Linked DNA regions of Homo sapiens. The protein of the gene in region 2 interacts with the protein of the main gene of each other region in a biochemical or structural test. Each region holds a gene or a part of one and is shown on either strand. Other genes may lie near its edges.

Region 1 (3,827 bases), on a different chromosome or scaffold from region 2:
TTATAGGCAGGACTATTTGGGCTTGAGTCGAGGGGAATCTTTCCACGTACCCAAGACCTATTTCCTTCTGGATGACTACTGTGCTTGACTTCTATTAAATGTCAGAGCAGCCTTTTTGTAATATGAATCTTAAAAAATATAATTTATGATGATAGCAAAACTGCAATATTCAGCTTCTAGTAGCTTGCCTCACAGCTACCTTTACATGAAGTTTCTGTGGACTTGGGAGAAGCAAGTGACATCCCCTTTTATTCCACTACTCAGGAGAGTCTGAATGTCAAGGAAGCAATTTGCCTTTATTTCATTTAGCTAGTTTCTCTGGAGTCTGATATAACACCATGTACTAGGTGTACTCAGAGGGTAAATGGGGTACATCTTCTAGGAAGGTCAGACATACCTATACATGTTGATATATAGTTGTTTGAGATAGGAAAACCAAAGTGTTTTTCCTAATCTCTGCTCTCACTGAACACAACACTTCTGACACCAATGTGCACAGATTACTACGCCACTTCTAGAATTTCTCATTCAGTAGGTCGTGGTTGGGTGGGATCTGGGGTTTGCATTTCTAACAGATTCCCAGATGATGGGGATGCTACTGGTCAGAGACCACACTTTGAAAACCACAGCTCCAGCCTGTAACCATACCTGCAGCTCCCTGGACATGCCATGCTGTCTTCCCATGCCTTGTCTTTGCCTGGAAGACACTCTCCAGCCTTATCTTCTTTGCTACTTAGTTGGTCCTGCAGATTCAGCTTGCATACCATATCCTCTGGGAAGCCTTCCTTTATGCCCTCTTCTATCCACCAGACAGAGTTAGGTACTCCTTGTCTTTGTTTCTGTCGCGATTTCCTGTTTACATGTCTGTCTCCCATATTAGATGATGAGCTTTTAGAGAGCAGAGCCTGTATTTTATCTTTATTCACCATTGTCCACTGAATGACTGACACACAGTAGGTGCTCAATAAAGATGTGTTGAGCGAATGCGCTCTACTCACCACAGCCTTGTTTTCCTTAACAAAAGGATGTGAAGCCCAGAAGTGGGGACCTGAATGCAACCATCTCTGTACTGCTTGTATGAACAATGGTGTCTGCCATGAAGATACTGGAGAATGCATTTGCCCTCCTGGGTTTATGGGAAGGACGTGTGAGAAGGGTAAGTAAAGAGACTTGATAAGTAAGCTGTGGATTTAAAAAGCCATCGTTGCTGGATCTAGAATTTTAGATCTCGACACAGATGGGAATGGACGCTAAATGGCCTCTGTTAGGTCAGATGGTACCTGTGTGTGAATTAGAAAAAGGTGCCTTTTCCTAAAGGTTCTTTAATGCCAACCACTGGAAAGTTATAATAAATATACAGATCCGTGATGTTTACAGTGTGAATGCTGCCCCCTAGGTTTGTGCACTGCACAAACCTGCATGATTGTGAGTGATGTCCCTGATGTCTGCTCTGTGGGGCAGTTTCATTATCAGTAAAATGGGCCATAAGGGTATGTTCATCCTACCATGCCACAGCTGAGATTTGACTGTTTCCCATATTCACTAGACTAGGAGAAATGAATCTAAAGAATTATGTATTTCAAGGGGTTGCATATTTGACTCTGAATCATCTTTTCTTTTCCTCCCAAAGCTTGTGAACTGCACACGTTTGGCAGAACTTGTAAAGAAAGGTGCAGTGGACAAGAGGGATGCAAGTCTTATGTGTTCTGTCTCCCTGACCCCTATGGGTGTTCCTGTGCCACAGGCTGGAAGGGTCTGCAGTGCAATGAAGGTATGCACCAATCACACCCTTGGACAGAGGATGTTCTAGCAGGTATATAAAGGAGATCCAGTTTGCTGTCAATCACAACATCGGATATACCTGGACTGCTTAGCTACCCACTACTGGACAACAGGATTTTGAATCATGGATGTTTACATCCAATGTTAATTATACTTTCACAGTAAAAATCTAGACCGCATAGAAAGTACTTCTCATAACTATCATCTGGGGATCTTTACTAAAGCACGGATTCTGATTTGGTAGGCATGGACTGGGGCCCGAGGTTCTGCATTTCTAACAGGCTCCCAAGTAGTTCCGATGTTACTGGTTTTCAGACCATGCTTTGAGTAGGAAGACCATAGAAGACTTGTTTTTTTTTTTTGGTTTTTTTTTTTTTTTTTTTTCAGTGAATCATAAAATCACAGCTTTAGCCAGGCATGGTAGCACATGCCTGTTGTCCCAGTTATTCAGGAGGCTGAGGCAGGAGGATCCCTTGAGCCCAGGAGTTTGAAGCTGCAGTGAGCTATGATTGCACCACTACACTCCAGCCTGGGCAACAGAGTGAGACCTCGTTTAAAAAAAAAAAAATCAAAATCAGAGCTTTTATGTCAGATCCAGACAGGATTTGGGGCTCAAAAATTGAAGAAGTTAAAATCTTACCTGCCGTGGACCTTATGCAAGTAGTACTAACATCATCTACTCAGAGTCCCTCTGCCCTTTGTAAAATAAGCTTTCCCATTTGACCAGGCTCTGTGGAGTGCATCTGACATCCACTTTTCAGTATGCATTTCACATCTACTGTTGCATAGTAGCTCAACATGAACCTGCAGACAAATGTGACAGAACCTCCCTAATGTATATTAATACTGTGAATTAGCCAGAGCTCAAAGGCTTTTCAGTGTTTATCTCACAAAGTCAGCTTTTCCCATATCCGGCACTAAAGGTAGCTACGATGGGGTCCCAGCAACTTGATAACAATGCTCCAGGGCAGAGCAGTTCAGTAGAAATATAAGCCATCCACATATAGAATTTAAAATTTTCTAGTGTCCACATTAAAAAAGTGAGGAGAAATAGGTGAAATAATTTTGATCTATTAACCCAATATGTTAAAAACATTATCAGTTCAACATGTAATCAATAGAAAAAAGTATTAATGAGATATTTTACATTCCCTTTTTCATAGTAAGTCTTTGAAATTTCAGTTTGGACTAGCTATATTTTAAGAGTTCCATAGCCACACGTGGCTAACTGTACTGGACAGCATAGCTCCAGGGGCTTGGAGGAGGAGGACAAAGAGGAGAGTTACACAAAAGTAAGCTTCAGCCACCTGCAATACCTCATTCAGTTCCCTCTAAATGCTATGTCTGCCCCCCGGAACATGCAGTGAGCCACAGCAGTGGAGAAATCCCATCTGGCCTCTGAAGTGTGTATGTTAAGGTAAAAGGTGACTCCAGGCAGGGGGCAGATCCCTTGTATTTTAAAAAAAATTAAAATGTTACGCAAACTATGAACACTTTGCTAGGACCCAGGAAGCGGTGCATGCCAGCAGTCTCTAGAACATAAACTTCATCAGCTTTGTAGTGAATGTGTCTCTGGGCCCAGGTTTTTTTGTTTTTTTTTTAATTCTTTTTATTATTATTATTATTATTATACTGTAAGTTTTAGGGTACATGTGCACAATGTGCAGGTTAGTTACATATGTATACATGTGCCATGCTGGTGTGCTGCACCCATCAACTCGTCATTTAGCATTAGGTATATCTCCTAATGCTATCCCTCCCCCCTCCCCCCACCCCACAACAGTCCCCAGAGTGTGATGTTCCCCTTCCTGTGTTCATGTGTTCTCACTGTTCAATTCCCATCTATGAGTGAGAACATACGGTGTTTGGTTTTTTGTCCTTGTGATAGTTTACTGAGAATGATGATTTCCAATTTCATCCATGTCCCTACAAAGGACATGAACTCATCATTTTTTATGGCTGCATAGTATTCCATGGTGTATATGTGCCACATTTTCTTAATCCAGTCTATCATTGTTGGACATTTGGGTTGGTTCCAAGTCTTT
Region 2 (3,827 bases):
TAGTCTAAGGGACCCAAACTCCTTGAGAAACTAAGAGCTATGAACTTTCTTCCCCCTAAAATGGGCTTACACACAAAAAATATTATATATAATTTAAAAGGGTTCAAAGATTCCCCTGAAGCCCACCCACTGCCCCCAGGAAAAGTCCCGCTGCTTCTCACAGGTCTGTTCAGTTAGTAAACTTCCTGAACAGAGTACTGCCATGTTTTCAACTGTCAATTCAAAAACACAGTACCTAGGGCATAGTGGGCACTCAGGTATCTCCATAAATACCTTCTGTATGAATGGATAAATGATAGAGACCATGGATGGATGACAGAGACCATGGATGGATGACAGAGACAAATCTTTGCATTCCTTCAGAGCCTATCAGGACAGTCACTCAAATGTTGTTAAAATAGCTTTTTAAATGCCGATTAGATATAAAAGTTATTACAGGAAATGTAGATATTAGCACACTTCCCAAAGCCTCTGAGATTATCATGGTCCACGATATGACTAGGCTTTGTGTCCCCACCAAATCTCATCTTGAATTATAATCCCTATGTAATTATAATCCCCCATGCTATTCTCCTGATAGTGAGTTCTCACAAGATCTGATGGTTTTACAAATGTTTGGTAGTTCCTCCCATGTTCATTCTCCTTCCTGCCACCTTGTGAAGAAGGTGCCTTGCTTCCCCTTCACCTTCCACCACAATCGTAAGTTTCCTGAGGCCTCCCCAGCCATGCTGAACTGTGAGTCAATTAAACCTCTTTCCTTTATAAATTACCCAGTCTCGGGCAGTTCTTCATAGCAGTGTGAAAATGGACTAATACAGTCCACACTCCACTTTCTCCAAAAAAAACTTTTAGGGAGCAACTACTGTTTGCTTCTTATATCTGCCATAGGCCAGCTACAGACCCTACAATACTGTACAAATGCAAACAAGATTTTTGTGTGATTTCAGAAGGAAGGAGATAATTGTCAAGGTTTGACTGCATGAATCTAAAGAAACTTAAATACTACAGGAAATATAAAATGCTGGAAGAGGAGTTCAACTCATATTTGGAAAAGACTAGTGGTTTAGAAATTGCATATCACCTGATTTACCTTATCAAGTTTTCAACTCAAATCTAATGAAAGGCTTTTTTTCTTGTGATATTAAAGATCAAACTTTACAAAGGAGAAAAAGTGCTTTAAGATTAACTGTGCTAAAATATTTATTCTAGAAGGTGAGAATTAATCACATTTTTGCTTCTGAGTTTTTGGTGAACATGGTGAAGTCATTTTAAATTTTTAGCTTTCTCATCTTCCAAGTACTGGTTTATAAAATAAAAGGGGAGACCATCCTGGCCAACATGGTGAAACCCCATCTCTACTAAAAATAAAAAAAGTAGCTGTGTGTGGTCACGGGCGCCCGTAATCCCAGCTACTCAGGAGACCGAGGCAGCAGAATTGCTTGAACCCAGGAGGCGGAGGTTGCAGTGAGCTGAGATGGTGCCACTGCACTCCAGCCTGGCAACAAAGCAAGACTTTGTCTCAAAAAAATAAAATAAAATAAAATAAAAGGGAAGCTTTCTGAGGGAAAAAGTATGTTCAACAGTACAACCACAGATAAGCAAGATTTCATTCATTTAGTAGGTATGCTCAAGGACCAGGAATAGCTTCCTTCAAAAAGAAGAGAGGATACATACCAGAGTATAGAAGTTTAACACTGGAAAGGTACTGTGACATTATGTTAAGAAGGTTCTGGAATGCCAGGCTAAGAAGTACAGACTTTATCCTATAGGCCTGTGATTCTCAACTAGGACCAAAGTTACAAAATTGGATGAAAACTTCCAGGTGAAGTATTTTTTTTTAATTATTAAAAAAAACTATATATATATATTTAAAATTGGAGGGAGCTGAGAAGGGAAAAATCAGGGAATCAAATCTCTCTGGAAAGAGAGACAGACATAATTACAGTTTGAAAAAGGAGCAGCACTTGGATCATATGTTTTGAATTGACTTTCAAAATACACATTTAAAATTTCCAATAATTGTAATGGTCATCAAAGGGAGCAATGAGTTTTTTTAACTTATATTTTTAATAATAAAAATTAAACCATGCTTCCAGTGCAGCCCACATCTCCTGATTGTACAACCAGTATGGTTTCCATTAGCCTACAGATGCTGCCACTTGAAAGTGAGTATGATGTGTTGAATGGACTGGATGAGGAAAGAAACTAGAGGCAAGTAGAGAACAACAGATATCACTTGTAATCACTCTCTAAATACCCACAAATTCACTATTTTTGAAGAGATACCGATGACATGATATCTTGATTTTATTAAGTCCAAAGCCAAAAGTTTAAAAGACATTTTATTAATACTCTAAGACAATGTCAACAAAGTATGATCCATTGGGTGTGGGATGCACAAATACAGAAGTTACCTTAAGAAACTGCAGCTAATAAAATCATATTTATTTAAAATATTTGAATTCAATGTAGCTCTTATCTTGTATTTTCTTTTTCAGTGGATACTGAAAATACAACGAGTTATGTGAGCACATCTGTGTAGGAGGGGAAGAAGCAGTTCTCATGATCGTCTAGAAGACAAACCCTTGGACCACTGAAGAATTCACCTGAAGAATAAATCTGTCTTACAGCATTAAGTTTGTCTACAATGTCTGCACATGCAATGGACATTAGTGCCTATTAAATGCCAAGCACTATATTAAGCAATGGGGATACAGGGATAATTAAGTCCCAGTCTCTAGCCTGGGAGGCGTTCAGTCTGGGGAAGACAGAAATGTAAATATTTATGAATCTAATGAACTCAGTGCTACAGAAACACAGAAGTATTTAACATATGAACAAAAAACCTACAGCCACCTAAATGTTAATGTCTTACTTTCAGTTTCATCCTTTAAAAATCCTTTTTCCAAGTTAAATATCAAATATTGATGGAAAAAAGTTAATATATTTTGAAAGTAAATAAAGTAAAACATTCTTGAGAATGCTTAAAGTAAATTTTTAGTTTACTGTCTCAGTGAACCATGTCTGGAGAGTTACTTAAAAGTTCACTTCCACTTCTGAAGTTAGTTGATGTAAATATGTTTAGGTGAATACTCATCAAAGGATGGATAAGAAAACCATAACTAAACCAGTGGCACTGGGTAAGCACTAAGATTAGCTCAAATGCAAGGACTGGAAAATATTTCCTATCACTCTAGCTTTGAAAGACAAATTAAGACACACAAAATCTTACAAGCTAACCACAAGAAGATACCACTTCACACCCAGTAGGATGCCTATAATCAAAAAGACAGCAACAAGTATCGGTGAAGATGTAGAGGAACTGGAACCCTCATATATTCCTGATTGGAATGTAATATGTGCAGCAGCTTTGGATAACAGTCTGGCAGTTCCGCAAAATGTTAAACATAGTGTTACCACGTGACTGAGCAATTCCACACTTAGATATATACCCAAGAGACCTGAAAATGTGTCCACACAGAAACTTGTACACAAATGTTCATAGCTGCATTATTCACATTAGCCAAAAAGTGGAAACAATTCAAATACCCATCAACACGATGAATGGATAAACAAAATGTGGTATCTATACAATAGAATATTATTCAGCCATAAAAAGGCCAAAAGTACTACGGATCAATACTATAACATGGATGAAACTTGAAATCATCATGTTAGGTGGAGTCAGTCACAAAACACCACATATTGTATGATTCCATTTATATAAAATGTCCAGAATACTTAAATCTATGGAAACAGAAGGTAGATTTGTGGTTGCCTGGGGCTTATGGGAAGGCGGGGAGTGACTGCTAATGGGTACAGAAAGT

What was found.
Region 1: of the proteins of PTPN12 (region 2) and TEK, one has a biochemical effect on the other in vitro, tested with the Homo sapiens proteins (one large-scale study listed by IntAct).

Annotation. Positions count from the first base shown.
Region 1 is NC_000009.12:27,171,592-27,175,418, forward strand, and holds part of TEK (angiopoietin-1 receptor isoform 1 precursor), read left to right. Parts: intron 1-1,024; coding exon 1,025-1,156; intron 1,157-1,630; coding exon 1,631-1,771; intron 1,772-3,827. UniProt on the Homo sapiens protein: Tyrosine-protein kinase that acts as a cell-surface receptor for ANGPT1, ANGPT2 and ANGPT4 and regulates angiogenesis, endothelial cell survival, proliferation, migration, adhesion and cell spreading, reorganization of the actin cytoskeleton, but also maintenance of vascular quiescence.
Region 2 is NC_000007.14:77,543,645-77,547,471, reverse strand, and holds part of PTPN12 (tyrosine-protein phosphatase non-receptor type 12), read right to left. Parts: intron 1-3,827. UniProt on the Homo sapiens protein: Dephosphorylates a range of proteins, and thereby regulates cellular signaling cascades. Dephosphorylates cellular tyrosine kinases, such as ERBB2 and PTK2B/PYK2, and thereby regulates signaling via ERBB2 and PTK2B/PYK2.